6 separate regions of the Homo sapiens genome follow, and regions 1, 2, 3, 5 and 6 are each linked to region 4. Evidence: fine-mapped expression QTL. A gene starts in region 4. Each other region holds a variant in brackets. All regions are shown on one strand. Distances are from middle to middle.

Region 1 (5,102 bases), 990 kb before region 4:
TCTATATTTGCTGTTCTGCCGCTTCCACTGGTGATACTCAGGCAAACAGGGTCTGGAGTGGACCTCCAGCAAATTCCAACAGACCTGCAGCTGAGGGTCCTGACTGTTAGAAGGAAAACTAACAAACAGAAAGGACATCCACACCAATACCCCATCTGTACGTCACCATCATAAAAGACCAAAGGTAGATAAAACCACAAAGATGGGGAGAAACCAGAGCAGAAAAGCTGAAAATTCTAAAAATCAGAGCGCCTCTTCTCCTCCAAAGGAATGCAGCTCCTTGCCAGCAACGGAACAAAGCTGGACGGAGAATGACTTTGAAGAGTTGAGAGAAGAAGGCTTTAGACCATTGGTAATAACAAACTTCTCCAAGTTAAAGGAGGATGTTCTAACCCATCACAAAGAAGCTAAAAACCTTGAAAAAAGATTAGACAAATAGCTAACTAGAATAAACTGTGTAGAGAAGTCCTTAAATGACCTGATGGAGCTGAAAACCACAGCACAAGAACTATGTGACGCATGCACAAGCTTCAGTAGCTGATTTGATCAAGTGGAAGAAAGGTTATCAGTGATTTAAGATCAAATGAGTGAAATGAAGCAAGAAGAGAAGCATAGAGAGAAAAAAGTAAAAAGAAATGAAAAAAGCCTCCAAGAAATATGGGAGGACTATGTGAAAAGACCAAAACTACGTCTGATTGGTGTACCTGCAAGTGACGGGGAGAATGGAACCAAGTTGGAAAACACTCTTCAGGATATTATCCAGGAGAACTTCCCCAACCTAGCGAGGCAGGCCAACATTGAAATTCAGGAAATACAGAGAACACCACTAAGATACTCCTCGAGAAGAGCAACTCCAAGACACATAATTGTCAGATTCACCAAAGTTGAAATGAAGGAAAAAATGTTAAAGGCACCCAGAGAGAAAGGTAGGGTTACCCACAAAGGGAAGCCCATCAGACTAACAGCAGATCCCTTGGCAGAAACTCTACAAGCCAGAAGAGAGTGGGGGCCAATTTTCAACATTCTTAAAGAAAAGAATTTTCAACCCAGAATTTCATATCCAGCCAAACTAAGCTTCATAAGTGAAGGAGAAATAAAATCCTTTACAGACAAGCAAATGCTGAGAGATTTTGTCACCACCAAGCCTGCCTTACAAGAGCTCCTGAAGGAAGCACTAAACATGGAAAGGAACAACCAGTTCCAGCCACTGCAAAAACATGCCAAATTGTAAAGACCATCAATGCTAGGAAGAAACTGCATCAACTAACAAGCAAAATAACCAGCTAACATCATAATAACAAGATCAAATTCACACATAACAATATTAACCTCAAATGTAAATGGGCTAAGTGCTCTAATTAAAAGACACAGACTGGCAAATCAGATAAAGAGTCAAGACCCATCAGCGTGCTGTATTCAGGAGACCCACCTCACATGCAGAAACACACATAGGCTCAAAATAAAGGGATGGAGGAAGATCTACCAAGCAAATGGAAAACAAAAAAAAGCAGGGGTTGCAATCCTAGTCTCTGATAAAGCAGACTTTAAACCAACAAAGATCAAAAGAGACAAAGAAGGCTGCTACATAATGGTAAAGGGATCGACTCAACAAGAAGAGCTAACTATCCTAAATATATATGCACCCAATACAGGAGCACCCAGATTCATAAAGCAAGTCCTTAGAGACCTACAAAGAGACTTAGACTCCCACACAATAATAATGGGAGACTTTAACACCCCACTGTCAACATTAGACAGATCAACAAGACAGAAAGTTAACCAGGATATCCAGGAGTTGAACTCAGCTCTGCGCAAAGTGAACCTAATAGACATCTACAGAACTCTCCACCCCAAGTCAACAGAATATACATTCTTCTCAGCACCACATCACACTTATTCCAAAGTTTACCACATAGTTGGAAGTAAAGCACTCCTCAGCAAATATAAAAGAACAGAAATTATAACAAACTGTCTCTCAGACCACAGTGCAATCAAACTAGAATTCAGGGTTAAACTTACTCAAAACTT[C/T]GCAACTACGTGGAAACTGAACAATCTGTTCCTGAATGACTACTGGGTACATAACAAAATGAAGGCAGAAATAAAGATGTTCTTTGAAACCAATGAGAGCAAAGACACAACACACCAGAATCTCTGGGACAATTTAAAGCAGTGTGTAGAGGGAAATTTATAGCACTAAATGCACACAAGAGAAGGCAGGAAAGATCTAAAATTTACACCCTAACATCACAATTAAAAGAACTAGAGATGCAAGAGCAAACACATTCAAAAGCTAGCAGAAGGCAAGAAATAACTAAGATCAAAGTAAAACTGAAGGAAATAGAGACACAAAAACCCTTAAAAAAAATCAATGAATCCAGGAGCTGGCTTTTTGAAAAGATCAACAAAATTGATAGACTGCTAGCAAGACTAATAAAGAAGAAAAGAGAGAAGAATCAAATAGATGCAATAAAAAATAATAAAGGGGATATCACCACTGATCCAACAGAAATACAAACTACCATCAGAGAATACTATACACACCTCTAAGCAAATAAACTAGAAAATCTAGAAGAAATGGATAAATTCCTGGACACATATACCCTCCCAAGACTAAATCAGAAAGAAGTTGAATCCCTGAATAGACCAATAACAGGTTCTGAAATTGAGGGAATAATTAATATCCTACCAACCAAAAAAAGTCCAGGACCAGATGGATTCACAGCCGAATTCTACCAGAGGTACAAAGAGGAGCTGGTACCATTCCTTCTGAAACTATTCCAATCAATAGAAAAAGAGGGAATCCTCCCTAATTCATTTTATGAGGCCAACATCATCCTGATACCAAAGCCTGGCAGAGACACAACAACAAAAGAGAATTTTAGACTGATGTCCTTCATGAACATTGATGCAAAAATCCTAAATAAAATACTGGCAAACCAAATCCAGCAGCACATCAAAAAGCTTATCCACCACGATCAAGTTGGCTTCATCCCTGGGATGCAAGGCTGGTTCAACATATGCAAATCAATAAACGTAATCCATCATGTAAACAGAACCAAAGACAAAAACCACATGATTATCTCCATAGATGCAGAAAAGGCCTTCAACAAAATTCAACAACCCTTCATGCTAAAAAGTGTCAATAAACTAGGTATTTGGACGTATCTCAAAATAATAAGAGCTATTTATGACAAACCCACAGCCAATATCATACTGAATGGGCAAAAATTGGAAGCATTCCCTTTGAAAACTGGCACAAGACAGGGATGCCCTCTCTCACCACTCCTATTCAACATAGTGTTGGACGTTCTGGCCAGGGCAATCAGGCAAGAGAAAGAAATAAAGGGTATTAAATTAGGAAAAGAGGAAGTCAAATTGTCACTGTTTGCAGATGACATTTAGAAAACCCCATCGTCTCAGCCCAAAATCTCCTTAAGCTGATAAGCAACTTCAGCAAAGTCTCAGGACACAAAATCAAGTGCAAAAATCACAAGCATTCCTATATGCTAATAACAGACAAACAAAGAGCCAAATCATGAATGAACTCCCATTCACAATTGCTTCAAAGAGAATAAAATACCTAGGAATCCAACTTACAAGGGATGTGAAGGGCCTCTTCAAGGAGAACTACAAACCACTGCTCAATGAAATAAAAGAGGACACAAACAAATGGAAGAACATTCAATATTGTGAAAATGGCCATACTGCCCAAGGTAATTTATAGATCAATGCCATCCCCATCAAGCTACCAATGACTTTCTTCACAGAATTGGAAAAAACTACTTTAAAGTTCAAATGGAACCAAAAAAGAGCCCGCATTGCCAAGACAATCCTAAGCCGAAAGAACAAGGCTGGAGGCATCATGCTACCTGACTTCAAGCTATACTACAAGGCTACAGTAACCAAAACATCACGGTACTGGTACCAAAACAGAGATATAGACCAATGGAACAGAATAGAGCCTCCAGAAGTAATACCATACATCTACAAGCATCTCAACTTTGACAAACCTGACAAAAACAAGCAATGGGGAAAGGATTCCCTATTTAATAAATGGTGCTGGGAAAACTGGCTAGCCATATGTAGAAAGCTGAAACTGGATCTCTTCCTTACACCTTACACAAAAATTAATTCAAGAAAGATCAAAGACTTAAATGTAAAACCTAAAATCTGGCTAATATCCAGAAGCTACAAAGAACTTAAACAAATTTACAAGAAAAATCAAACAACCCCATCAAAAAGTGGGCAAAGGATATGAACAGACACTTCTCAAAAGAAGACATTTATGCAACCAACAGACACATGAAAAAATGCTCATCATCACTGGCCATCAGAGGAATGCAAATCAAAACCACAATGAGATACCATCTCACACCAGTTAGAATGGCAATCATTAAAAAGTCAGGAAACAACAGGTACTGGAGAGGATGTGGAGAAATAGGAACGCTTTTACACTGTTGGTGGGACTGTAAACTAGTTCAACCATTGTGGAAGAGAGTGTGCCAATTCCTCAAGGATCTAGAACTAGAAATACCATTTGACCCAGCCATCCCATTACTGGGCATATACCCAAAGGATTATAAATCATGCTACTATAGAGACACATGCACACGTATGTTTATTGTGGCACTATTCACAATAGCAAAGACTTGGAACCAACCCAAATGTCCATCAATGATAGACTGGATTAAGAAAATGTGACACATATACACCATGGAATACTATGCAGCCATAAAAAAGGATGAGTTCATGTCCTTTGTAGGGACATGAATGACCTGGAAACCATCATTCTGAGCAAACTATCGCAAGGACAGAAAACCAAACACTGCATGTTCTCACTCATAGGTGGGAATTGAACAATGAGAACACTTGGACACAGGGTGGGGAACATCACACACCGGCGTCTGTCATGGGGTGGGGGGAGGGGGAGGGATAGCATTAGGAGATATACCTAATGTAAATGAGTAGTTAATGGGTGCAGCACACCAACATGGCACATGTATACATATGTAACAAAACTGCACGTTGTGCACACGTACCCTAGAACTTAAAGTAAAATAATAATAATAATAAAAACTTTACATTCTACATGAAGTCCATGC
Region 2 (4,620 bases), 69 kb before region 4:
ATATTATATTATACTATACTATACTATACTAATATTATATTATATTATATTATATTATATTATATTATATTATATTATATTATATTATATATTTATTTTTTGAGACAGGGTCTTGCTCCGTCATCTAGGCTGGAGTGCAGTGGCGCAATCATGGCTTACTGCAGCCTCAACCTCCCAGGTGCAGGTAATCCTCCTGCCTCAGCCTCCTGAGTAGCTGGGACTACAGCTGCATGCCATCACACCCGACTAATTTTTAAATTATATAGTTGTAGACATGGGTTCTCTCTATGTTGCCCAAGCTGATCTTGAACTCCTGGGCTCAAGCAATCCTCCTGCCCTGGCCTCCCAAAGTGCTGAGATTACAGGCATGAACCACCGTGCCTGGCCAAAATGTATATTTTAAAAAACATATAAAAATAGAGTTGGCTGGGCGCGGTGGCTCACGCCTTTAATCCCACCACTTTGGGAGACCGAGGCTGGTGGATCACTAGGTCAGGAGATCGAGACCATCCTGGCTAACACGGTGAAACCCCGTCTCTACTAAAAATACAAAAATTAGCCAGGCGCGGTGGCGGGCACCTGTAGTCCCAGCTGCTGGGGAGGCTGAGGCAGGAGAATGGTGTGAACCCGGGAGGTGGAGCTTGCAGTGAGCCGAGATCACGCCACTGCACTCCAGCCTGGGCAACAGAGCGAGACTCTGTCTCAAAAAAAAAAAAAATAGAGTTAATAAATATATCTATGTGTTATAGATATAAATAAAATGTGTTTGCAATCATTATCTACTGTGTCCTATAACTAATTAAGATCTTCACCCATAAAAATCCCAACCCTATTATGAATTTGGAGTACTTTCTGGTGGTGGACTCACACTTTTTCATGCAAGCTCCTTTGCCCCCTATGCAACCACTGCCCACGTTGTGCTCCAGGGCAGACCATAGTTCACAGGCGGAAGCAGGTGCCATGTAGGAATGAGACCACATGTACCATGAAGCAACGGAGCTCACTGATTCAGAGGCAAGATGCTGGCCCCTCTGGCTGTCACCATGGATGACTGCTGATTTAAGGTCTTTCTTGGTCATCCCACCTGGCACCACCACTTCTGGTCCCTTCTCTTCAGTTTCCTCTACCCAGCTATGTCCTCCTCTACTGATAAGCCCTGAAACAGAGCAAGTGGCCTCTTTTTTAATGTAACAAATATTTTACAATATTCATTTGTAAAGTCTAGAAATGAAAATAATACACAATAGCATCTACCTAGCCACACAATCTTGAAAAACAATCAGTATAATGCTGTAACTATAACGTAAGAAATAAATGAAGGTATTTATTTATTTATTTATTTATTTATTTTTAGAGACAGAGTCTTGCTCTATAGCCCAGGCTGAAGTGCAGTGGTGCAAGTGGTGCAGCCTCGAACTCCTGGGCTCAAATGATCCTCCTGCCTCAGCCTTCTGAGTAGCTGGGACTAGAGGTGTGCACCACTATGCCTAGCTAATTTTTAACTTTTTTGTAGAGACTGGGTCTTGCTATGTTGCCCAGGCTGGTCTTGAACTCCTTGTTGAGGATCAGTGGGAGATGAAAGGGAGGAGAGACAGTGAGGACCCCTTGGCACTACCCACCTTCCCTACCCACCGGCAAGTCCCCAATGAGTGATGTCCAGTATGGGTCTGGGCGGGGCAAGTGATCCTCCTGCCTCAGCCTCCCAGAGTGCTTAAATTACAGATGTGAGCCACTCTACCCAACGGAAGGTAATTTGAAATAAAATAATACATGTTCCCATACATAAGTGCTCAGGACAATCACATTAATGAAGTTGTCACGTTCTTGCATCTAAATTTAGAATCCACATGAGCACCATGGCAGTGGATCGCCGTTTTGGTGCGTCTTATCAGCAACTTAAATGCCACGCTGTTATTCAAAGCGCTGCTGTCAGTGATGTGATTTTCCAAAATAATGAGCAGCTCTTGGAAAAGCTCCAAACAGAACAAAGTGCAAACTTTCCTCAATGCATACAGTAGTTGTGTTTCTGGAAAGTGTAGTGTATATGAAAACCACATGAAAATAGTCTGCGGTTACATATAAAACAAAATTAGGTTCTAGGATCAGATAGTTTTTATTTTATTTTATTTTATTTTATTTTATTTTATTTTATTTTATTTTATTTTATTTTTGAGACGGAGTCTCCCTCTGTTTCCCAGCCTGGAGTGCAGTGGCACAATCTTGGCTCACCACAACCTCTGCCTCCCAGGTTCAAGTGAATCTCCTGCCTCAGCCTCCCAAGTAGCTGGGACTACAGGCACGCTCCACTATGCCCGGCTAATTTTTGTATTTTTAGTAGAGACGGGGTTTCACTATATTGGC[G/C]AGGCTGGTCTTGAACTCCTGACCACGTGATCCACCCGCCTTGGCCTCCCAAAGTGCTGGGATTATAGGCTTGAGCCACCGAGCCCAGCCCAGATACTTTTTAAATGGTGTTTTTTTTCTTTAAACTACTACATAAATGTTTGGGACATTCAAAAGTGAAATTCAAATTTAAGAAACATTTTTTTCTTGCACAAAATATTCTTGGGTGTTATAGGATGTCTAGCATCTCTAGTCCCCACTCACTGAATGTCAGGCACATGCTCAAATCAAACTCTCCAAGAGTGGTCATTGAGAACTACTCTTTCCTGTATATGAGTAGACCTTGTACTCTCTGTCCACTTTTCTCCACATCTGGGGAAAGCTGAATCATGGGCATAAGTACCTGTAAACAGTCACTGATACACATGTTACATCTGTAGCAACCACCCCAAATTCAGATATATAGCTTAGGGCCCCATGGGTTGCCTAATACATGATGGTCATAGAGGGAGGAAATTTCTCGGAGAATTTCATTCAACCTTCAGCATGATTGGAGCATTGGTTCTCACCACAGTACCCACAAAGGTAACTTGTACCCCACCCAGCCCCATCTTGTACATCACTCACTGGGGACTTGGTGGTGGGTAGGAAAGGTGGATGGTTCCTAGGGTTCCTGGCTGTCTCTCCTCCCCTTTGTCTCCCACTGATCCTCAACACAGCTCATGGCTGAGAACTTCTGATTGAGAGATTTATACAAGAAATTGCATTCCTCAAAGTAAGTGATTATTGAGGGAAAAAAAAAGGAAAACCATGAAAAAAACCCCAATGCACCCTACTTGCTTATATGTGCGTAGAATATCTCTGGAAAAATGTCTAAGAAACCAATGGTGTGAGCTGTTTCCCAGGGAGGGTCTGGCATGGCTGGAGCACTGCGGTGAAAGGAGAACGTCCTTGATGCTCTACTCTTTTGTACCTTCAGAATTTTGTATGGATGGCTTGAAAATAGAAAGAAATAGAATTTGATTTTTAAAAGAGGCAGTCCCTGGAAAAAAGTTATTAATTTGCATATTGCAAGTTGAGAAAGTGAGAGACCAGAGCAAGAGGAGGTCACAACAAGATAAAAAGGTGGGGGCCGTTATGGAGCCCAGGGAAAGGAGGGCTGGACAAGAGACTCCGTCCATGTTTCTCTAGCACTTTCCAGGAGAATAAAGCTCTTGTTCTAGCACTCTCCTCCTTTGGACCTATCTGTAGAGAGCAGAAAAGTGACCACGAGGCTCTGTTGCATGATAAACAACCCCTTAAAAACCACCAACTTTCCATGGTCTTCCAGCAACCCATTTGGATGTCGTCCCTACAGTTGACTCCTTCAGTCCCTGTGTGTGTCCTCTGCGTGCCCCTGGCCCCCTGCCTTCCCTTAGCTGTGCTGCACAGAAAACCGCCCCAGCTCTTGGGTCAAACAGATCCCATAAGAAACATCAGAAGAAGCATCCTGGCTTACAAGTTATTTTTTGGTGAGTGCAATGGGCGTGCCGTGCTCCTCCAGGCCTGACCACCTGTATGAGAGTTGGCAGGAGGACATTTCTAAACTCACACTCTTAGGGCAGTAGAGATGGGGCCTAAGACCTTTGTCTCTCCTGGTATCAGTGAGCCCCGTGTAGCCCCTTTTCCTTATTCCAGGTCTGGAAGCTGCAGTCACAGACACACAAAGGTGCTGGGGCTTGCACATTCACCAGCGTCACTTTCTCCAGCCACACCACTACGTTTGAGGGCTCTCCTGTCCTTCTCTAACAGAACTAGTCTGGGACTAGACGCCAGGCTTTGGGCTAAGTACTTGATGTGTCTTCACTTATTAAATCCTTCCAATAACCCTTCAAGTTAGGTACCATTATTATCGTCATCAACCTCATTTTATAGAGAAGGAAACTGAGGTGCAGAGAAATTCAGGTTGAGGTTCACAGCAAATAAGCAGTGGAGGCCAAGTGTGCCCCCAGGTGGACCCAAATCAAAGCCACACTGTTACCTTCTGCTCTGCGCTGCCTCCCGGGGCAGTAGCCCTCGTGAGCCTCCCCACGTTGGGGTGTCTAATGAAAAGCTTCCCTGCTGGTTGAGCTGAAGGGGTCAGGGTCGGGGCTGTACAGAGAAACTCAGGCCACAAGGGCCTTTGGGCAGAACTGGGGTCACAAAGTAATCATGGTTTCCCAGCGAACACAAGACTTTGGCCCTCAGGCAAGGCTCCTTGATGTCTGGGGGAGCCTGTGCCCCCCAGCAGTGCTCACAGAT
Region 3 (5,102 bases), 65 kb after region 4:
AGTGGGCCAGGTGCAGTGGCTCTCGCCTGTAATCCCAGCAATTTGGGAAACTGAGGCGGGTGGAGCATTTGAGGCCAGGAGTTCAAGACCAGCTTGGCCAACAGGGTGAAGCCTCATCTCTACTAAAAATACAAAAAATAGCCGGGTGTGGTGGTTGCACCTGTAATCCAATCCCAGCTATTCCCGGAGGCTGAGGCAGAGAATTGCTTGAACCTGGGAGGTGGAGGCTGCAATGAACTGAGATCACGTCACTGCACTCCAGCCTGGGTGACAGAACAAGACTCCATCTCAAGAAGAATAAAAACAAAAAAACAACTAAGTGTATTGATTGCCTTATTAACTATTAACTGGTGAGAAAAGGAAATTGCATCACATCAGATGCTGAAGTAGAGCAGAAAAGAGGTTAAAGCAGTGCTGAGAGAGAAATTTAAAGCACCTAATGCAAACATTAAGAAAGAGAGAAAGTCTCAAACCAATAATCAAAACTCCCAGCTTCGACACCCTACAACATAAAAAGCAAAACAAACCCAAAACAAGCAGAAGGAATAAACAGAAATCAATGAAATTGAAAACAAAAAGTAGAGAAAATTAATGAAAAGCTAGTTCTTTCAAAAAAAAAAAAAAATCAGCAGACTGGCCAAAAAAAAAGAGAAAATGCAGAGTTATAATATTAGAAATGAAAAAGGTACTATCACTACAGACTTTGCAGACATCAAAAGAACAAGGGAAAACTACAAACAACTCTACACACACAAATTTGACAATTTAGATGAAATGGACCAATGACTCAAAAAGCAAGAACTATCACACCTCACTCAATATGAAATACCTAATTTGAATAACGCTGTTAACTATTAAGATGATTATATTTGTAATTTTAAAACTTCCCTTCAGGGTTTGGATGGTTTAACTAGAGAATTCTTCCAAATGCCTAAAGAAGAACTAACACCAATTTTATATAATCTCTACAAAAAACAGATGGGTACACTTCTCAATTCACTTTATGAAGCTAATTACAAAATTACCTGAATAACAAAACCAGAAAAGACAGCATTAAAAAAAAAAGAAGAAAAAGAAACTGCAGGCCAATATTCTCAATGACTGCAGATACAAAAATCCTTATCAAAATGTTACCAACTAGAAGTCACTATACTAGCAGGCTTCATTCTAGTGATACAAGGCTGGTTCTGTATTTGAAAATCAATCAATATAAACCATACTAATAGACTAATGAAGACAAATCAATGATTATATTATTCAATGCAGAAAAAAATGACAAAATTCAACATCCATTTATAGTAAAAACACTCAGAAAAATAAAAGCCTAGAGTTAACATTCTAGTGGTGAAAAGTCTGAATACTATGTTTCCCTAGATTGAGAACAAGAAAATGGTGTCCACTCTCACCACTATTATTCAACATAGTATAAGAAGTTCCAGCCAGTAAAATAAGGCAAGAAAATAAAGTAAAAGGCATATAGATGCAAAAGAAAGAAAATAATCCCAGCCAGGTGCTGTGGCTCACTCCTGTAATCCCAGCACTTTGGGAGACTGAGGAGGGCGGATCACGAGGTCAAGAGATCAAGACCATCTGGTCAACATAGTGAAACCCCATCTCAACTAAAAACACAATTAGCTGGGCGTGGTGGTGCACACCTGTAGTCCCAGCTACTCGGGAGGCTGAGGCAGAGGAATCGCTTGAACCCAGGAGGCGGAGGTTGCAGTGAGCCGAGATCGTGCCACTGCACTCCAGCCTGGCGACAGAGGGAGACTCCATCTCAAAATAAAAAATAAAATAAAGAAAACAATCAATTATTTGCAGAAAAGATGATTTAAAAATTCCAAGGAATATACCAAAAACTTTCCAGATCTATTAAGTGAGTTCAACAATGTCACAGAATACAACATAAAAATCAATTATATTTCTATATACTAGCAATGAACACATAGACACTGAAATTAAAAATACAAACAACAGCCGGGTGTGGTGGCTCACATCTGTAATCCCAGCACTTCGGGAGGCCGAGGCAGGTGGATTGCTTGAGCCAAGGAATTTGAGATTAGCCTGGGCAAAATGGCAAAACCTCATCTCTACAAAAAAAAGCAAAAAAAAATTTAGCTGGGCATCGTGGTATATGCCTGTAGTCTCAGCTACTGGGGAGGGTGAGGTAGCAGGATCTCTTGAGCTCGGGAGACGGAGGCTGCAGTAAGTGGAGACTGTGCCACTGCACTCCAGCCACAGCGACAGAGATAGACCCTGCCTCAAAACAAACAAACAATGCTGGATGATG[G/A]CTCAAGTAATCCCAGTGCTTTGGGAGGCCAAGGAGGGAGGACTGCTTGAGCCCAGGAGGTCAAGACCATACATAGCGAGACTCAGCTTCTACAGAAAATTTAAAAATTAGCCAGGTATGGAGGCAAGTGTTTATTGTCCTAGTTACTTGGGAGGCTGAGGCAGGAGGACCGCTTGTGTCCAGGAGTTCAAGGCTGCAGTGAACTATGATTACACCACTGCACTCCAGCCTCAGTGACAGAGCAAGATCCTGTTTCTAGCTTAAAAAAGAGAAAAAATGGAGGGGCATATTGTGTTCATAGATTGGTAGACTCAACTTGGTAAAGATGTTGATTCTCCTCATACTGATATACAGGTTTAATGCAATTCCTATCAAAATCCCAGCAATATATTTTGCAGATACAGAATTATTCTAAAATTTATACGGAAAGGCAAAGTAAGTAGAATAGTTAAAACAATTCTGAAAATGAAAAACGAAGTGGAAGGAATCAATCTAGCCAATTTCAAGATATATTACATAGTTACAGTAATAAACATTGTGTGATATCAGTGGAAGAATATACACATTGAAAAGAACAGAGAACCCAATATAAGCCTACACAAATATATCCAACTGATTTTTTACAAAGGTGCAAAAGCAATTAAATGGAGGACATCAATAGACTTTTCAGCAAACAGTGCTGGACCAGATAGATATTGACAGACAAAAATATTAACCCTGACTTAAGCCTCACACCTTAAAAAAAATTTAATTCAAAATAAATGTGAAACTATAAACTTTTAGGAAAAACCACAGGAGATAATTCTTTGGGATCTGGGGCTAGGCAAAGAGTTCTTAAACTTGACCGTAAAAAGCATGATCCATAACAGAAATAGTTGGTAAACTAGACCTCATCAAAATAAAAAACTATTTTGCTCTTTGAACACCCATGTAAAGAAGATAAAAAGAGAAGCTAGAGACTAAAAAAAAAAAATTTGCAACCACATATCCAAGAAAGGACTAGTATCTAGAATTAAAAAACAAAAACAAAAAACCTCTCAAAGCTCAACAGGTAACCAACCAACCAATGGAACTAGAAAATGGGCAAAAGAAATGAAAAAATATTTCATGGAAGAGGATATACACATGGCAAATAAGCACATGAAAAGATGTTCAATACTATTAGCCATTAGGGAAATGCAAATTAAAACCACCATGAAATCTTATTATACATCTAAAATTTAAAATTGTGATACTTTCAAATGCTGGTGAGTATGGAGAGTTTTCATACATTGCTTGTGGGAATGTAAAATGACAGCACCTTTGGCCATTTCTTAAAGTACACATGTAACAACCACAGGACCCAGCAACTACACATTGGACATTTATATGAGATAAATGAAAACTCATCTACACACACACACACACACACAACCTGTACGCAAATGTTTACAACAGCTTTATTCTTAATAGCTACAACCTGGAAACAACCCAGGTATCCTTCACGCTTAAACTGTGGTACATCCATACCATGGAACACCATATAGCAATTAAAAGAAACAAACTGCTGATACAAACAATGACTTGGATGAACATAAATACTGTACGAGCATCTTGCAAGATGTTACCACTGGGGAAACTGGAGAAAGGATAAACAGGATCTCTGTGTTATATTTTACAACTGCATGTCAATCTACAATCACCTCAAAATAAAGGTCAGTTTTTAATAAAAATTTTAAAGGATATACATCAGATGCTGAGGGGGAAGGAAAAGAGAAGGTCACAACTAATTTCAATAATGTACATGATGGGGAATCAATAGAAAATAACTAAGAAAGAGAGGACTAAAGAAAACAAAAACAAAACCACAAACTAGAGGCCAAAAGTATACTAAAACAAAAAATAAAACAGATCACATACAATGATTATTTTACACATAAATATATAGGTGATGACAAGGAAACTAGGACTTGACTTTAAAACCATGAAAATAAACTGCGTATGAATATGACAAAATCAAATTTAACAAGAAAAGCAATCCCTAAAAATAAAGAAATGAACCTAAACGTGTATCCATTTGGTAGCATAATCACACTATCCTGTGTAACTTTTCAACACAGCAATTTAACCCTGCATCTCCAGTTAACCCTAAAGAGAACTACCAGGAAAACTCCAAACTGTTCTCGGTAACCCTATTACTGGGTGCAGCGCTGCTGGTGTTGTTATTCTGAGACTGTTATGTGTCTATGTGGAATAAAGCAAATGAGTAAAAATGTCATATTCTATTATTCCTGGTGTCAGAAAAAAACAGGAAGTTTGGCCTAGGAGAAAGACGGATATATGATAGAAGTTGTTTAGTAAAATCCCATAGTCCTGAATTTGAATTGGAATATCAATATATGCATTATATGTGTGTGTTTATGTGTGTATGTATGTATATAAATATGCATATAAATATGTATACATATAAATATACACACACACATATGTTTATATACATACACACACACACAAAATTTTGTTTTAATCCTATATCTATCCACCCCAAGATGTCTACTTGGAGATGTGTATCTCCAACGCCTAGAAACAGTGACCAAATCAGTGAGTGCATAGACAATACTCTCAAAAATACCACCAATAGCAAACAGAACTGGTTCATTCCAACTAATGGGCAGAAAAGGTACAAGGTAAGCCTGCAATATCTTAACATACCAAATATCAAAGATATTTACGAGACTAGAGTCTTGTAAAAACTACTCAAGAGCTAACATGAAGAGGCTCCAAATGTTCAAAGACAATACAATTATTATCAATTATCAATAAGACAATGAAT
Region 4 (5,102 bases):
TAGTTTAAGTATTTTTACAGCTTTTTGTTTGTCTAAGGTATGTTAAACATTTTTCTTTTTTTTCCCAAGATAGAGTCTTGCTCTGTTGCCCAGGCTGGAGTGCAGTGGCTTGATCATGGCTCACTACAACCTCCACCTTCCAGGTTCAAGCAATTCTCCTGCCTCAGCCACCCGGGTAGCTGAGATTATGGGCACCGTCACCACACCTGGCTAATTTTTGTATATTTAGTACAGACGGGGTTTCACCATGTTGGCCAGGCTGGTCTTGAACTCCTGACCTCGTGATCCACCCGCCTCAGCCTCCCAAAATGCTGGGATTACAGGCATGAGCCACTGTGTCCGATATGTTATACATTTTTATATATATACATTCTGATATGCTATATACAGTTATACCCAGCCAATATGTTACACAGTTTTCTCTCACTGGGCCTAGCAACATTTTTGTTATGTTATACATTTTGTTATACATTTTTTCTAACCGGGCCTAGCAATCTGCTTTATCTCCCTTGTTCTGTGGGAAACCTTGTGTTCAAGTGATAGCTTAAAAATCAATTCTCGGCTGGTGGCGGTGGCGGTGGCTCACGCCTGTCATCCCAGCACTTTGGGAGGCCAAGGTGGGCAGATCATCTGATGTTAGGGGTTTGAGACCAGTCTGGCCAACATAGTGAAACCTCATCTCTACTAAAAACACAAAAATTAGCTGGGCGTGGTGACGGGCGCCCGTAATCCCAGCTACTCGGGAGGCTGAGGCAGGAGAATAGCTTTAACCCAAGGGGCGGAGGTTGCAGTGAGCCGAGATAGTGCCACTACACTCCAGCCTGGGCAACAGTGTTAGACTCTGTCTCAAGAACAACAACAAAAAAAAAGACAAAAAAAAAAAAAAAGAATTCTATAAATAAAGGAGTTGAGAGAAACATTCACTGTCCCTTATCTCTACATGTTGATTATCAGAATAAAAAGAATTCCAGCAACATCAGTCATGGGCACAAAGCCAACCCGTAAACATTTACAGAACTCGATGATTACCCAAAACTCGGCTTGCTTTCTCAATACTACTGACTTTGGCTTCACATTAGCCACAGGTGTGTCTAGAGTTAAACAAGGTCAACTTTACAAAAAAAAAAAAAAACAAACTGATACTTGGGCATAGTTTAAAAAAAACTTAAAAGTGTGTGTGTGTGTGTGCGTGCGCGTGTGTGGTGGGGGGCGGGGCATTTCAATATAAATGCCTTAAACACAACCTTCCTGGCTATTTTATAAAATGGGTTGAATCTCTAAGGACACATATTTCCTAAGACCTCGACTGATACACAGAGTGCAAACTTGGGAGCCAGACTAGACTGCCTCAGAATCATGCCAGCTGTGTGGCACTGGAAAGTCACCTAATTTTGCAGCGCCTACCTTCACCTCTGTAAAATGGGGAACAATAATAACTAATTTATGGATGCTGTAAAGATCTGAAATTTTAAACTCAGTAATGCGCCTGGCACACATTAGACACGGGTGTTTCGTTTGTCTTGGCAAAGGCTTCGGGTTTTGCGACAATAGCCTTGCTGCCTCCGGAGCAAGCATCTCTCCTTGCCCCCTCTGGGGCATTTAAAAATGACCTCAATTCTACTCTCAATTATGTCCAGTTCAACAGTTACGTGCAGGTTACAAAGCCGAGGAAGCTGAGGTATCTTCTAAACTAACATAGCACGTACAGAATTTTTTTAAAGTTTGGTGGAGGAATCGGCAGCACAAGGTAAGCTGCGCTCTGTTCACAGACCTGGGAATCAGAACTCCGGCCGCCGCGGCCTCCAGGCGCCTCTCAGCTAACAGACTTCCTGCAGCAGGGGGAGGGGCGGCCAGCTCGCTGCAAAAAGCCGCAGGACCCCCTCACCCCGCCTTGCCGCCCCCGCTCCCACTCTCTGGGATGGGGAGTGCAGGGTCTAGGCGATGGCACTTACCAGCGCGAAGTGCACCAGCGCGTCGTAGCAGAGCCAGATGAGCGCCCCGCGGTCCGCCGCCCCCTGCCCGCGGCCCAGGCGCAGGCCCAGGGCGCAGCCCGCCGCCAGCAGCGCGGCGCACAGCAGCAGCGAACCGCCAGCCTCGGCCCCCAGCTCCCACTCAGCGCCCATGCTTCAGGCTTCCGACGCCAACGGCCCAGGACCATGCGGCAGAGGAAAGCAGGGAGAGAAACGACGGGGCGGGGCTGGCCGGGAAGGGGCGGAGCCGGATGGCCAAGGAGGAGCGGAGCTGATTGGCCAAGGCGGTCCGGGGAGGGACGGGGCTCCCCGGCCGGGTCGGGGCCAGAGCGAGGATTCCGTGCCCGCCTCGCACCCTGGCCAGCCTGCTGAGTCCGGTGGTTTTGCCAGGTGCCGCCCATGGAGGTTCCGTAGAAGGAACGTGCTCACCAACTTGCGCAACCGCCTCGACCAAACCTGTTCCCAAACCGAGCCCAAAGGATTGGTAATAGGGCCACACCTTTTGATGTTGTTTCGCTTTTAACAAGGCTCAAACTTTAAGCCACAAAGTGAAGCCTAGGTAGTGGAAATTTTGCCAGTAGACCGGGGCAGAATTTTAGGGGCAAAAGGTTTTAATTAGGCTGCAGCAAGCCTTACCAGGGAGGCTGGGGGCCAAGGGAGTTTTCAGCCACCAGCCGGCTTAAAGCCTTTATGGCCTACTCTGACAATCTTTCCATTTCTTAAAAATCCAGAAAAGTAGAAGGGTGGGTGAGAGGAGCGGTAAGTCCTATTGGCTTGGCGATAGATGCGTTTAACCTGTGGCAGGCCAGGTTTCACTATCGCAGGCCTCCATCACAACTGCTTCAGCACTGAGTGGTTAAATTAAATATTAAAAGCTGAGGCCGGGCGCGGTGGCTCACGCCTGTAATCCCAGCACTTTTTGCCAAGGCGGGCGGATCACGAGGTCAGGAAATCGAGACCATCCTGGCTAACACGGCGAAACCACGTCTCTACTAAAAATACAAAAAATTAGCCGGGCGTGGTGACGGGCGCCTGTAGTCCCAGCTACTCCGGAGGCTGAGGCAGGAGAATGGCGTGAACCCGGGAGGCGGAGCTTGCAGTGAGCCGAGATCGCGCCACTGCACTCCAGCCTGGGCAACAGAGCGAGACTCCGTCTCAAAAAACAAAAAAAAAATTAAAAGCTGAAAGAGTCAGTGCCCATATACCAAAGTCTGGAATGTAACAAAAGCCCACCAAGAGTTTTGCCTAGGCCTTTCTTGGGCCTTGAAGCATGACAAGATAACTAAGGAATTTTTAACAGGACCCGTTTAGGATTAAACAAGTTTTATTGGGGGTCTGAAGAAACTCCCCAGGCCTCCAAAAACAAGTTTATTGGGAGTCTGGAGGAATTCCACAAGCCTCCATGATTTAGCAAGAGACAAAATAAGGGTAATCATCCCAGCACCCAGACCTATTTAGATTAAGTAAATTTACTGAGGCTCCAGAGGAAGGTCTTCAGGATTAGAAGTTGTTAATCACTTACGTCTTTAGATGAATGCACTCTTACACGTAGACATATAGCTTAGAAGGTATATACGCTCTGGAAAAACTTTGTAATTATGAGTTGGTCTGGCAATAATTTCCAGACCTTCTCCCTGTAACCGGTTGCAGAAATAAAAACTCTTCTTCCCCAGTTCATCTGCACCTCATTATTGGGCTGCCCAACCCCCAGTTTGGTCCGGGAACAAACCTACATTATTTAACATCACAACAACCCTATGAGGTCGGTGAAATAAGCCAGTCACAAAAACATACTTATGATTCCACTTACAGGAAATATCTAAAATAATCAATTTGCAGAAACAAAATAGAATGATGGTTACCAGGGGTGGGGCGGGGCGGGAGTGGGGGGGGGGCGCGGGGAAAAGTGGAGTGTTATTTATTCGGATAGTTTGATTTGCAAGATGATGTTCTGGAGATTGGTTGCACAACAACGTGAACATACTTTACTGAGCTGCACACTTAAAAATGGTTAAGATGGCAAATTTTATGTGTATTTTACAGTTATTAAAAAAAATGCTGGCACTGAACACAAGAAATTTTTCCCTTAGTCACTTCCTATACCATTTTTTATAGCAGTTAACACCAGATAGAATGATCCTTGTTTACACACTTATTGCTAATCTCCTGCCACTATAATGTAAGTCTTCAAGGCCAGGGGTTGTGGCTAGCTTTTTTATTGCTGTATCCCTGGCACCTATTACAGAGTTTGGCATATATTAGCTGCTCAGTTAAATAACTGGCGACTGAGTATGGTCAATCTAGCCACCTATGCTCTGGATCCTGTCCTGTAACTAACTTATCATCCTTTAGGGACCACTCGGCCCACCTCCCCTTCAGAGCAAAATAGAAACTTAATGAAAAAACTGATCAGATCCCCTGTCTTCATGTCTTGACCCTGCTCCTCAGTCCTTTCTACTCTGGTTTCTGCCTTATCACACTGATATAGCTCTCACTAAGGTGACTACTGGCCTCCACATCACTGAACCCCAAGAACAGTTCATTTTCTTAGTGTAGTTTACTTCTCAGCAGCATCCCAGCACTGAAATATTTTTCCTTTGGTTTTCTGAGAATACAGCCTCCTTAGCCATTCTGTTTCCTTTGCAAGTGCATCTTCCACTACAAATGCCTAGTGAATGCTGCAGCTCCACAACCCAGTCCTCGGCCCTGTTCTCACTCCAGACCCCAAATCCAGGCAGTCTCATCCTTACCCTCTGCTTTAATGACCAGCAAAACCTGCAGAGAACTCAAATCTCTAGCCTGGTCCTATTCTCTGGACTCCAGACCAGTATTTCCAACTGCCCTACTTGACAGTCACTTGGATGTCTCAATATAACCCAAACTGAGCTCATCACTTTCCACCCCAATGTCTGATTCTCCTTCCTATCTCATGTTACTTCCACTCATCAGTTACTACAACCCGGAAACCTAGAAATCATCCCCGATACTTCTCTCTCCCCAAACTTGGCATCTAAGGCATCACCAACTCCTCCTCAGCAGCCAAGTATTTCTTGATTCCATGCATTTCATGGACCTGTTCACCATCTCGTCTGTGCTTCACTCACTAATGTGACCAGCGACCTCTACATCACT
Region 5 (4,549 bases), 27 kb before region 4:
TGATCATGGCTTACTGCAGCCTTGACCTCCTAAGCCCAAGTGATCCTCCCACCTCTGCCTCTTAAGTATCTGGGACTACAGGCGTGTGCCACCACGCCTAATTTTTAAATTTTTTATTCCTTGTAGAGACAGGGTCTCATTGTATTGCCTAGGCTGGTCTCAAACTCCTGGGATCAGGTGATCCTCCCGCCTCAGCCTCCCAAAGTGCTGGGATTACAGGTGGGAGCCACCGCGCCCAGCCTCTATTCTTCCACCTTTTATCTAACAAATATATGTGGTCACAACCTACTCCAAAGGTCACCTAAGTGTTGGGACATGTAATGTCTCCCCTCCTTCCAGCAGGACAGAAGAAGGGCACCTACCGGTAATATTTTTCTTTGACTATGGCATAAATGAGGAACAATGCCAGAGACCCATCCAGGGCGACGGTCAGAATTTCCACAGACACAATGGTTGGATCAAAATAAACCCATCTTGCATCAGCTTTGCCATATTCTTTCCCTAAAGACAAAATCCATGTTGTTACTCAAATGGCAACAATTTTTATGACAGTTCATGGAAATGACCTTTCTTTCCTTTAAGGTGGAGATAAAATGAGTAATCGCCACTCTCTCTGCATTCTTCACGATGCCTTAGTGGAAGGCAGGAGAAGCCCTGGGACCAAAATGCGTTTACCACCTGACACAAGCACTGAGAACAGCAGCAGGTTTACAGGTGTCCAATCATTCAGTTTCCAGCATGCTTTCACATACACGCCCTCCTCAGCCCCACCCTCTTCAACATAAGTAGCAGAATTTTAAAAGAATTCAACATGGTCAGATTTTGCAAAGACAATCTCCAGTCATGATCTTGGTAAATACATTGTAATTCCTTACTTCAAAATTTCCATATAAATTCTGTAAGTATAATGGAGATGTGGGAAATTTGTTATGAAGGACATGTTTATAAAAAACACGTTTATGGCCAGGCACGGTGGCTCACACCTGTAATCCCAACACTTTGGGAGGCCAAGGCGGGCAGATCACGAGGTCAGGAGATCGAGACCATCCTGGCCAACATGGTGAAACCCTGTCTCTACTAAAAATACAAAAAATTAGCCAGGCATGGTGGCGGGCACCTGCAGTCCCAGCTGAGGCAGGAGAATGGCATGAACCCAGGAGGCGGAGCTTGCAGTGAGCCGAGATTGCGCCACTGCACTCCAGCCTGGGTGACAGAGCGAGACTCCGTCTCAAAAAAAAAAAAACAAAAAAACAAACAACCAAAAACTTGTTTCTTGGCCAGGCACGGTGGCTCACGCCTGTAATCCCAGCACTTTGGGAGGCCAAGGTGGGCGGATCACTTGAAGTCAGGAGTTTGGGACCAGCTCAGCCAACATGGCGAAACCGTGTCTCTACTAAAAATACAAAAAGTAGCTGGGCGTGGTGGCGCATGCCTGTAATCTCAGCTACTTGGGAGGCTGAGGCAAGAGAATCGCTTGAACCCAGGAGGCGGAGGTTGCAGTGAACCGAGATCGCACCACTGCACTCCGGCCTGGGCAACAAGAGCTAGACTCTATCTCAATACAACAACACGTTTATTAATAACAGAAGAGAAACTAGGTGCTGAAGGGACAGTGGGCAGGGAGGGGAGGAGAGAGCCCAGACTGCAGAATGAATCGGAGTGGGCAGAGGGGCATCTCCGCCCACAGGGACAGGGAACTCACAATGGCTCTCACACAGTCTCAGCTGTGCTGCTTGGGGAGCCAGTGTGCTCTCAGAGATCCATCCAGACCCATTATCAGAGTGGTTTCTTCTCAGGAACACCATGACTCAGAAAGTCTTTTCAGGGCTGGAATGATGGCCAGGTATTATGGAGGCCATTAAAAATTATTTAATTACTTTCTTAATTTGTAAAAGTAATACATGCTGGTCCTAAGATCTCAAATGATTACAGTGAAAAAATGGAAGTGATCACACCTCGTCTCCCCCTTTAATACTGCCTCGCATTATTCAGAAAAGGTGTGAAGTCCACAGAGGAGCCTGTGATCTGCTACTGAGCAGCACACAGCTCTTGTCTCATAAAGACCAGAGGAAGGATCCCTCAGGGCCTGGGACAAAGGTTTCTAACAAAAGGCTGTCCTAAGAGAAAGGACAATAAGAGGATTAGCTATTTAATGGGATAACACACAAGGCACATGCTGAGGGAATGTTCTGTGAGAGGCCACCGAGAGTCATCAGCCTGTCCTTAGCTGACTGTCTGCAGTCTCCTGTGCCCTCCAATAACTAACTGGAAAACAATGTCATATTGAAACGTTTCTCCTCTAAATTTAAATATACATACAATAGGTGAAATGTACCAGTTAGTGCACCTAAAATCTAATAAAATATCACCTAAGTAAAATGTCAGTTCTTTAGGAACAAAAAGAGATATTGACCAAGT[CT/C]TTTTTTTTTTTTTTTTGAGAAGGAGTCTCACTGTTACCCAGCCTGGAGTGCAATGGCATGATCTCGGCTCACTGCAACCTCTGCCTCCCAGGTTCAAGTGATTCTCCAGCCTCAGCCTCCCAAATAGCTGGGACTACAGGCACCCACCACCACACTCAGCTAATACTGACTGACTGAGACGGAGTCTCACTTTGTCACCCAGGCTGGAGTGCAATGGCCAGATCTTGGCTCGCTGCAACCTCCGCCTCCCGTGTTCAAGCAATTCTCCTGCCTCAGCCTCCCAAGTAGCTAGGATTATAGGCACTCACCACCATGCCCGGCTAATTTTGTATTTTTAATAGAGATGGGGTTTCACCATGTTGGTCAGGCTGGTCTTGAACTCCTGACCTCAGGTGATCCACCTGCTTTGGCCTCCTAAAGTGCTGGGATTACAGGCTTGAGTCACTGCACCTGGCCTAATTTTTGTATTTTTGGTAGAGACAGGGTTTCACAATGTTGGCAAGGCTGGTCTCAAACTTAACCTCAAGTGATCCATCTGTTTTGGCTTCCCAAAATGCTGGGATTACAGGCGTGGGCCACCGTGTCCAGCCTTCAACAAGTCTTTTTTTTTTTTTTTAAGCATTTGGAAGGTGTTATGGTAGGCCCTGATAATGCAGCTGCAAGTAGGACCATGTTGGCCCTTAGTGGCCCACATCCTAGTGAGGCTGAAAACCAGGCAGTAAGTGGCGGTTAGCGAATATGAGGGCAGGGAAGAAGTGGCACTGAAGCCAGACTACGAACTTCAGGGAAGACTTCCTGGAGGAGGTGTTTTGATCACTGCCTCTCTTCCCTGTTGGTGAGGGATGGACTTCTGCCTGAGGGCTATGGTGATGGCTGAACACACAAGACCCGACACTGGGCAGATGAGATGGAGGAGGTTTATTAGTTGCACACACTGTGGCCCGGGAAAGGAGGACATCTCGCCATGCAGGGCCACATAGGGGTTGCACCTGGGAACAGTGTTCGGGCAGGGGCCACGCAGGCAGGCTTTGCAGTAACAAGAGGAGGGGGTGGGATGAGCCCTGGTTCCCCACAGAGGATGTGATTGGCTTGTCTGGATAATTCCACAGGCAGACTGGTGGGAACTGAAGCCTGCTACTGAGGGGACAAGCATTTGTCCCCTCCAAATCTGTGCCTGCTCCCCTTGATAGGGAGAGCTATCTGGTTAGGGAACCTTATATGTGGAAGCAGAGTGGGGAGGGAGACTTGCAGTTTGGCCATCTGAGGCCCCCCTGGATCTTACCAGGTATCAAAGCAGACATAATACTGAATCCCAGCCAGGGAGGGTGGCTCACACCTGTAATCCCAGCATTTTGAGAGGCCGAGGCGGGTGGATCAGTTGAGGTCAGGAGTTTGAGACCAGCTTGGCTAACATGGTGAAACCCTGTCTCTACTAAAAATACAAAAAATTAGCCAGGCGTGGTGGTGGGCGCCTGTAATCCCAGCTACTCGGGAGGCTGAGGCAGGAGAATGGCATGAACCCAAGAGGCGGAGCTTGCAGTGAGCCGGGATAGCACCACTGCAGTCCAGCTTGGGCGAAAGAGTGAGACTCCGTCTCAAAAAAAAAAAAAAAAAAAAAAACAAAAATTAGCTGGGCGTGGTGGCGCACACCTGTAGTTCCAGCTACTTGGGAGGCTGAGGCAAGAGCATCACTTGAACTGGGAGGCAGAGGTTGCAGTGAACTGACATTGCGCCACTGCACTCCAGCCTGGGAGACAGAGCGAGACTCTGTTAAAAAAAAAAGAAAAAAAAAAAAGGCAGACATAATACTGAATCCTAATTTCAGGCCTTATACCACAAGAGATGACTCCAGATCTGAGTGGAAAATAAGGGTGTTTCAGGGAGGAGCATGTGCAAAGGCCTGGAGCTGAGAGGTAGCGTGTCTGAATCTACAGACAGTTTAGCAGAGCTGATGGTGGGGGAAGGTTAATGCGTGAGAGGAAGGTAGGGGACGGATAGTAAGGGGCCCTGGAATCCACCAGTCCCAGCGCATCTCCCTGTGGCATCTCCCTCTGGCAGTCCCTCTGGCATCTCCTCTACTGCTAAACTTTAACCATCTCTTTGCTTATTAAACACTGAAACAATAAAAA
Region 6 (5,102 bases), 180 kb after region 4:
TGTTTGTATTTTTAGTAGAGATGGGGTTTCACCATGTTGGCCAGGCTGGTCTCAAACTCCTGACCTCAAGTGATCCACCTGCCTTGGCCCCTCAAAGTGCCGGGATTACAGGTGGGAGACACTGCACCCGGCCAGAAACAACTAATCTATTATTTGTTTCTATAGATTTGTCTGTTTGGGACATTTCATGTAACTAGAATCATACAGAATGTGGTTCTTTGCGATTGGCTTCTTTCAGGCAGCATGATGTTTTCAAGGTCCATCCATGTGGTAGCAGGTATCAGTGCTTCATTTCTTTTTACTGCCAAAAAATATTAAATTGACTTGTATACACCACACTTTATTTATCCATTCACCTTTGAATTGTTTCAAAGTTTTGACTATCATGAATAATGTTGTCATGTACATTTCATATACAAGTTTCTGTGTGGACATATGTTTTTATTTCTCTTGGGTGCATACTTAGGAGTAGAATTGCTGGCTCATATGTTAACTCTTTGTTAACATACAGAAACTGTCAGACTGTGTTTTCAAAACAGTGCACCATTTTGTATTCCTACCATTAGTGTATGAGGGTTCTACTTTTTCCATATCCTCACCAACAATTGTTATTATCTGCCTTTTTGATTATAACCAACGTAGTGAGTGTGAAGTGGTATTTCATTGTGGTTTTGATTTGTGTTTCTCTGATGGCTAATTCTATAACATTTTATAATCAGAATAAAATAAGTTCTATTCTAAAAAATAGCAACGACAGCAATTCTTCTTTAGGTAAGACATTGTCTGTGTTCCAGTTTTCTCTGACAATCTGTGACCCAGTAGTCTCACAGACAGTCCTTTTGGATAAACATAGAAATTTACCCCTCTGGTCTTAAACTTATATTTGTTTTATCTGAGTTCCTTCTTCAGGAAAGGACACCCAGGACTCTCAAAAACTATCAAAGAACTGGCTGTCTGCGGTGGCTCATGCCTGTAATCCCAGCACTTTGGGAGGCCAAGGCGGGCGAATCACGAGGTCAGGAGATCGAGACCATCCTCGCCAACACAGTGAAACCCCATCTCTACTAAAAATACAAAGAATTATCTGGGCTTGGTGGCAGACACCTGTAGTCCCAGCTACTCAGGAGGCTGAGGCAGGAGAATGTCATGAACCCGGGAGGCAGAGCTTGCAGTGAGCCGAGATCACGCCACTGCACTCCAGCCTGGGTGACAGAGTGAGACTCCATCTCAAAAAAAAAAAAAAAAAGTTTCAAAGAACTGAAACTCACCAGATGATCCCCACATCCAGAAAGTGAGATGATCTCATGCGTCATTAATCATGATTGCTTTCTTACTCCTCCCTAGTTCCTGTTTTCCCACACATTGCTAAATTTCTTCCCTGCCATATAAACCTCTAATTTTAATTGGTCAGGGAAATGGATTTGAGACTGACCTCCCATCTCCTTGGCTGTAGCACCCGATTAAAGCCTTCTTCCTTGGCAATACTCATCATCTCAGTCATTGGCTTTCTGTAGGGGGAGCAGCAGGACCTAAACTAAACCCTGCTGTTTCGGTAACAGATTTTGGTTCCCTGACCAGGAACACATTGCTCATGGTTTGGCTGCTGCAGGCCAGGAATCTCAGAAGCCATCCTAAGCAGCTGCCCACCCAATTTTGTCTGGAGGTGAGTTTTGGTCTCCCTCTGGCCCTGCTGCTGACCCCAACTGTGTTCCTGATTGCCTAGAAAGAGCATCCTTTGAAATTTGACATCTGCATCCACATGGGATAGTGTCCTTTGTGGGTCCTGATAGCAGGATCTGCTCCTCTCAATTTGGGAAATATTTATAGAAATTTCCATTTGCAGGTTGAACAAGCCCAACTGACTTGAGAGAAGCACCCTGACTGTTTCAGTGTAGACATTCTTGGGGGCTTGTTTGTAATTGTGTGTTTTGTGTGTGTGTGTGTGTGTGTGTGTGTGTGTATGTGTGTGTGTCCAGGCAAGTGAGTGTCTTGCAGGTACCACACAGCAGGATTGGATCCTCTCAATTTGAAAAATTTCAAAGGAATTTTATTTGCAGGTTGATCAAGCCCAACCAATAGAGAGAGGAAGCACCCCAAATGTTTCAGCTTGGACACTCTTGGGGCTTGTTTATTGCTGTAGCATTTGAATTGTGTTTTGGTGATTGTGTGTGTGCCATGGGAAATCAGAATTCAATAAACTGAAATTCTTTTGTAATACTGTTTGACCCCAATATTGTTTGGAATCTGGAGTTTGCTGTTGAATGGGAAAGTGGGATGGAGTTCTGTGTATCCAGGCTTTTGTGCTGCTGTTCTAAGCAGAGTTGGGCCTGGTTATTTATTTATTTATTTTTGAGATGGAGTCT[C/T]GCTGTGTTACCCAGGCTGGAGTGCAGTAGTGTGATCTCAGCTCACTGCAACCTCCACTTCATGAGTTCAAGTGATTCTCCTGCCTCAGCCTCCTGAGTAGCTGGGATTACAGTTGCGCTCCACCACACCTGGCTTATTTTTTTTTTTTTTGAGACGGAGTCTCGCTCTGTCGCCCAGGCTGGAGTGCAGTGGCGCAATCTCAGCTCACTGCAAGCTCCGCCTCCTGGGTTCACACCATTCTTCTGCCTCAGCCTCCCGAGTAGCTGGGACTACAGGCGCCTGCCACCATGCCTGGCTAATTTTTTGTATTTTCAGTAGAGACGGGGTTTCACTGTGTTAGCCAGGATGGTCTCGAACTCCTGACCTCAAGTGATCCACCCGCCTCGGCCTCCCAAAGTGCTGGGATTACAGGCGTGAGCCACTGTGCCCGGCCTACACCTGGCTTATTTTTGTATTTTTAGTAGAGATGGGGTTTCACCATGTTGGTCAGGCTAGTCTCAAACTCCTGACCTCGTGATCCACTCATCTCAGCCTCCCACAGTGCTGGGAATACAGGTGTGAGCCACCACGCCCAGCCTTGGGCCTGGTTATCATGCGATGTTCTCCCATGGTGCTGTTTGGCTTCAGTGTTCTTTGGAGTCTGGAGAGGTTTGGCCTTTAAAAAACAAATTGCCATGGAAACTGCTTTACCCACAATTTTGGTTCACAGCCTTCACTGGATTGCCTATCCAGTCAAACAAAGTGTAGCCACATAAACTGGTGATTTGTATTGCTATCTTATGGCTACAGTTCAAAGGCAAAGGCTATTGTATCTTTGTTTATATATGTGTGTATACATGTCTATATATGTTTATGTATGTACGTTATATGTTGTGTCTACCAAATTGGCTTATAAATACAAAAAACTCATATATTAAGTCCAAAGTCTTTTTCAAGTTCACAAGACTTACATAAACCTTTAATAAAGAAGCTGGCTTTAAAATTACTGATAAAATAAAAGTAGAAGGGTCTTCAGAATTGTCAGCATACATTTTTGTCTAGGTTTTATATTTGTCTCTGCTAGATGTTTTGAGGTGTCAGGGTTTGGCACAGAAGGTTATAAAACTGAACCCAGCTGGAATAAACAAAATAATCTTCGTTTGTGTGCCTTCTTTGACAAAAGAGATCAATTTAATGTTGTTAGCTGAATCTTCTGAGTTATTGGCAAAAAATACTTATGTATTTAACTTTAAGTTTCTTACTTAGATCCTGGCTATTTAAAAAAATGGTTAGCTGGATGCGGTGGCTTACACTTGTAATCCTAGCACTTTGGGAGGCTGAGGTGGGCAGATCACGAGGTCAGGAGTTCGAGACCAGCCTGGCCAACACAGTGAAGCCCCATCTTTAAAAAAAAATACAAAAATTAGCTGGGCATGGTGGCAGTGGCCTGTAATCCCAGATACTTGGGAGGCTGAGGCAGGAGAATCACTTAAACCCAGGAGGTGGAGGTTGCACTTCAGCCTGGGTGACAGAGCTAGACTCTATCTCAAAAAAATAAAAATAAAAAATAAAAAATGGAAATTACTTTGATTGATGACTAGTTGTGTCTTATATCTCAGTTTTCAGAAGTAATCTAGATGAACTTAAAAAATGAAATGATTGAGTACATGTAAATGGGATACATGTTATAGGTAAACATTTTGTATAATTTAAAATCTTAAAATTATTTTTGATGCTTATTGGATATCTGATTCATTTCCAATTAATAAATGGTTATGATATGGGAAAAAATAATTTTACAAATTGTGGATTAGTTCTCATCTATCAAATGCTGATATCTGATAAGCAGCTCAGGATTTCCTACTTCCTAGGTTTTTTCACTAAAATTTAAGGTTACTAAGAATAAGAATTCTAGTTAATATATAATTCTGTATATAAAGTGTGCCAAAAAAGATGTGTTTTTATTGAGAAAAAGAATCATTTTGTCTGGTTCAGAAGTTATCTAAAGGTTAATTCAAATTATGGGTTTGAAAATGTTATTTATGAAACAAGGTAGAAAGTAACCAGTAAGTACAGGAGAGAGATGTGAACAAAGTTATGGATATGAAGATGTATTTTTGGTATAGGTTCTAAAGAAAAGATTCCAAAGAAAATAGAATAATTATGTATGAAAAAGGATCTTGTATGGCAAATTTTTGTCCTAAAGTAAAATGACTGGTTATTTAAAAAAAAAAACAAAAAAACAAAACAGAAAGAAAAAGGGAAAATGTAGAACAAAACAGAAAGTCCAAGCATGTCACAGATGGTCTGTGTAAGTCATACGTTGTCTGTGTGTCTCTCTTCATGCAAATATTCTTTAAAACCTGATAGAAAATTGGAGAAATTTGGCTAATTAACATTGCTTATAGTTAAATCTTGTAGTCTTGATGAAGGTAAAATAAGAAATATAGGAAATATTGTAAAGAAATACATTGGTAGTTTGGCAATTTTAAAAAATATAGTTAAGCATGAAGCCAGATTTAGCGTAGAACCACATCTCACATACATGCTTGCATTGATTCACACTACATTTGCTGTTCTGCAGATAGGGCTAGCACTAAAGTATAATACTGGTCATGTACTGAGAATGAATTTCTGTTCTTTGTTATTTTTTTTTTCTGTGAGACGGAGTCTCACTCTGTCACCTAGGCTGGAGTGCAGTGGCAAGATCTCAGATCACTGCAACCTCTGCCTCTGTGATTCATGTGATTCTCCTGCCT

The links. PIP is the estimated chance that this variant, and not a neighbour inherited with it, causes the effect. A credible set is the group of variants that fine-mapping cannot tell apart.
Region 1: its variant is the best candidate, but not a certain one, in a credible set for the expression of EBPL in pancreatic islets (PISA, PIP 0.87).
Region 2: its variant is the best candidate, but not a certain one, in a credible set for the expression of EBPL in whole blood (INTERVAL, PIP 0.72).
Region 3: its variant is the best candidate, but not a certain one, in a credible set for the expression of EBPL in whole blood (INTERVAL, PIP 0.53).
Region 5: its variant is the best candidate, but not a certain one, in a credible set for the expression of EBPL in subcutaneous fat (TwinsUK, PIP 0.82).
Region 6: its variant is the best candidate, but not a certain one, in a credible set for the expression of EBPL in whole blood (INTERVAL, PIP 0.71).

What each region holds. Positions count from the first base shown.
Region 1 is chr13:48,697,350-48,702,451 of GRCh38, forward strand. All of the region lies in intron 4 of CYSLTR2 (cysteinyl leukotriene receptor 2), which reads left to right. Among named protein-coding and RNA genes, the nearest start is that of CYSLTR2, 46 kb to the left of the region's middle. The variant C/T (reference allele first, on the strand shown) is at 2,029.
Region 2 is chr13:49,620,832-49,625,451 of GRCh38, forward strand. No RefSeq gene overlaps it. Among named protein-coding and RNA genes, the nearest start is that of ARL11, 5.4 kb to the right of the region's middle. RefSeq lists an enhancer at 1-158. The variant G/C (reference allele first, on the strand shown) is at 2,362.
Region 3 is chr13:49,754,011-49,759,112 of GRCh38, forward strand. The region is part of intron 1 of KPNA3 (karyopherin subunit alpha 3); the gene reads right to left. Among named protein-coding and RNA genes, the nearest start is that of KPNA3, 36 kb to the right of the region's middle. The variant G/A (reference allele first, on the strand shown) is at 2,291.
Region 4 is chr13:49,689,302-49,694,403 of GRCh38, forward strand. EBPL (EBP like) reads right to left here and starts at 2,185. Exons shown (of 4, transcript NM_032565.5): 1 at 1,953-2,185. The coding sequence starts at 2,123. RefSeq lists an enhancer at 1,480-2,477 and silencers at 1,941-2,080, 2,111-2,310.
Region 5 is chr13:49,662,695-49,667,243 of GRCh38, forward strand. EBPL (EBP like) reads right to left here. Exons shown (of 4, transcript NM_032565.5): 3 at 363-501. Among named protein-coding and RNA genes, the nearest start is that of EBPL, 27 kb to the right of the region's middle. The variant CT/C (reference allele first, on the strand shown) is at 2,419.
Region 6 is chr13:49,873,153-49,878,254 of GRCh38, forward strand. No RefSeq gene overlaps it. Among named protein-coding and RNA genes, the nearest start is that of SPRYD7, 61 kb to the right of the region's middle. The variant C/T (reference allele first, on the strand shown) is at 2,364.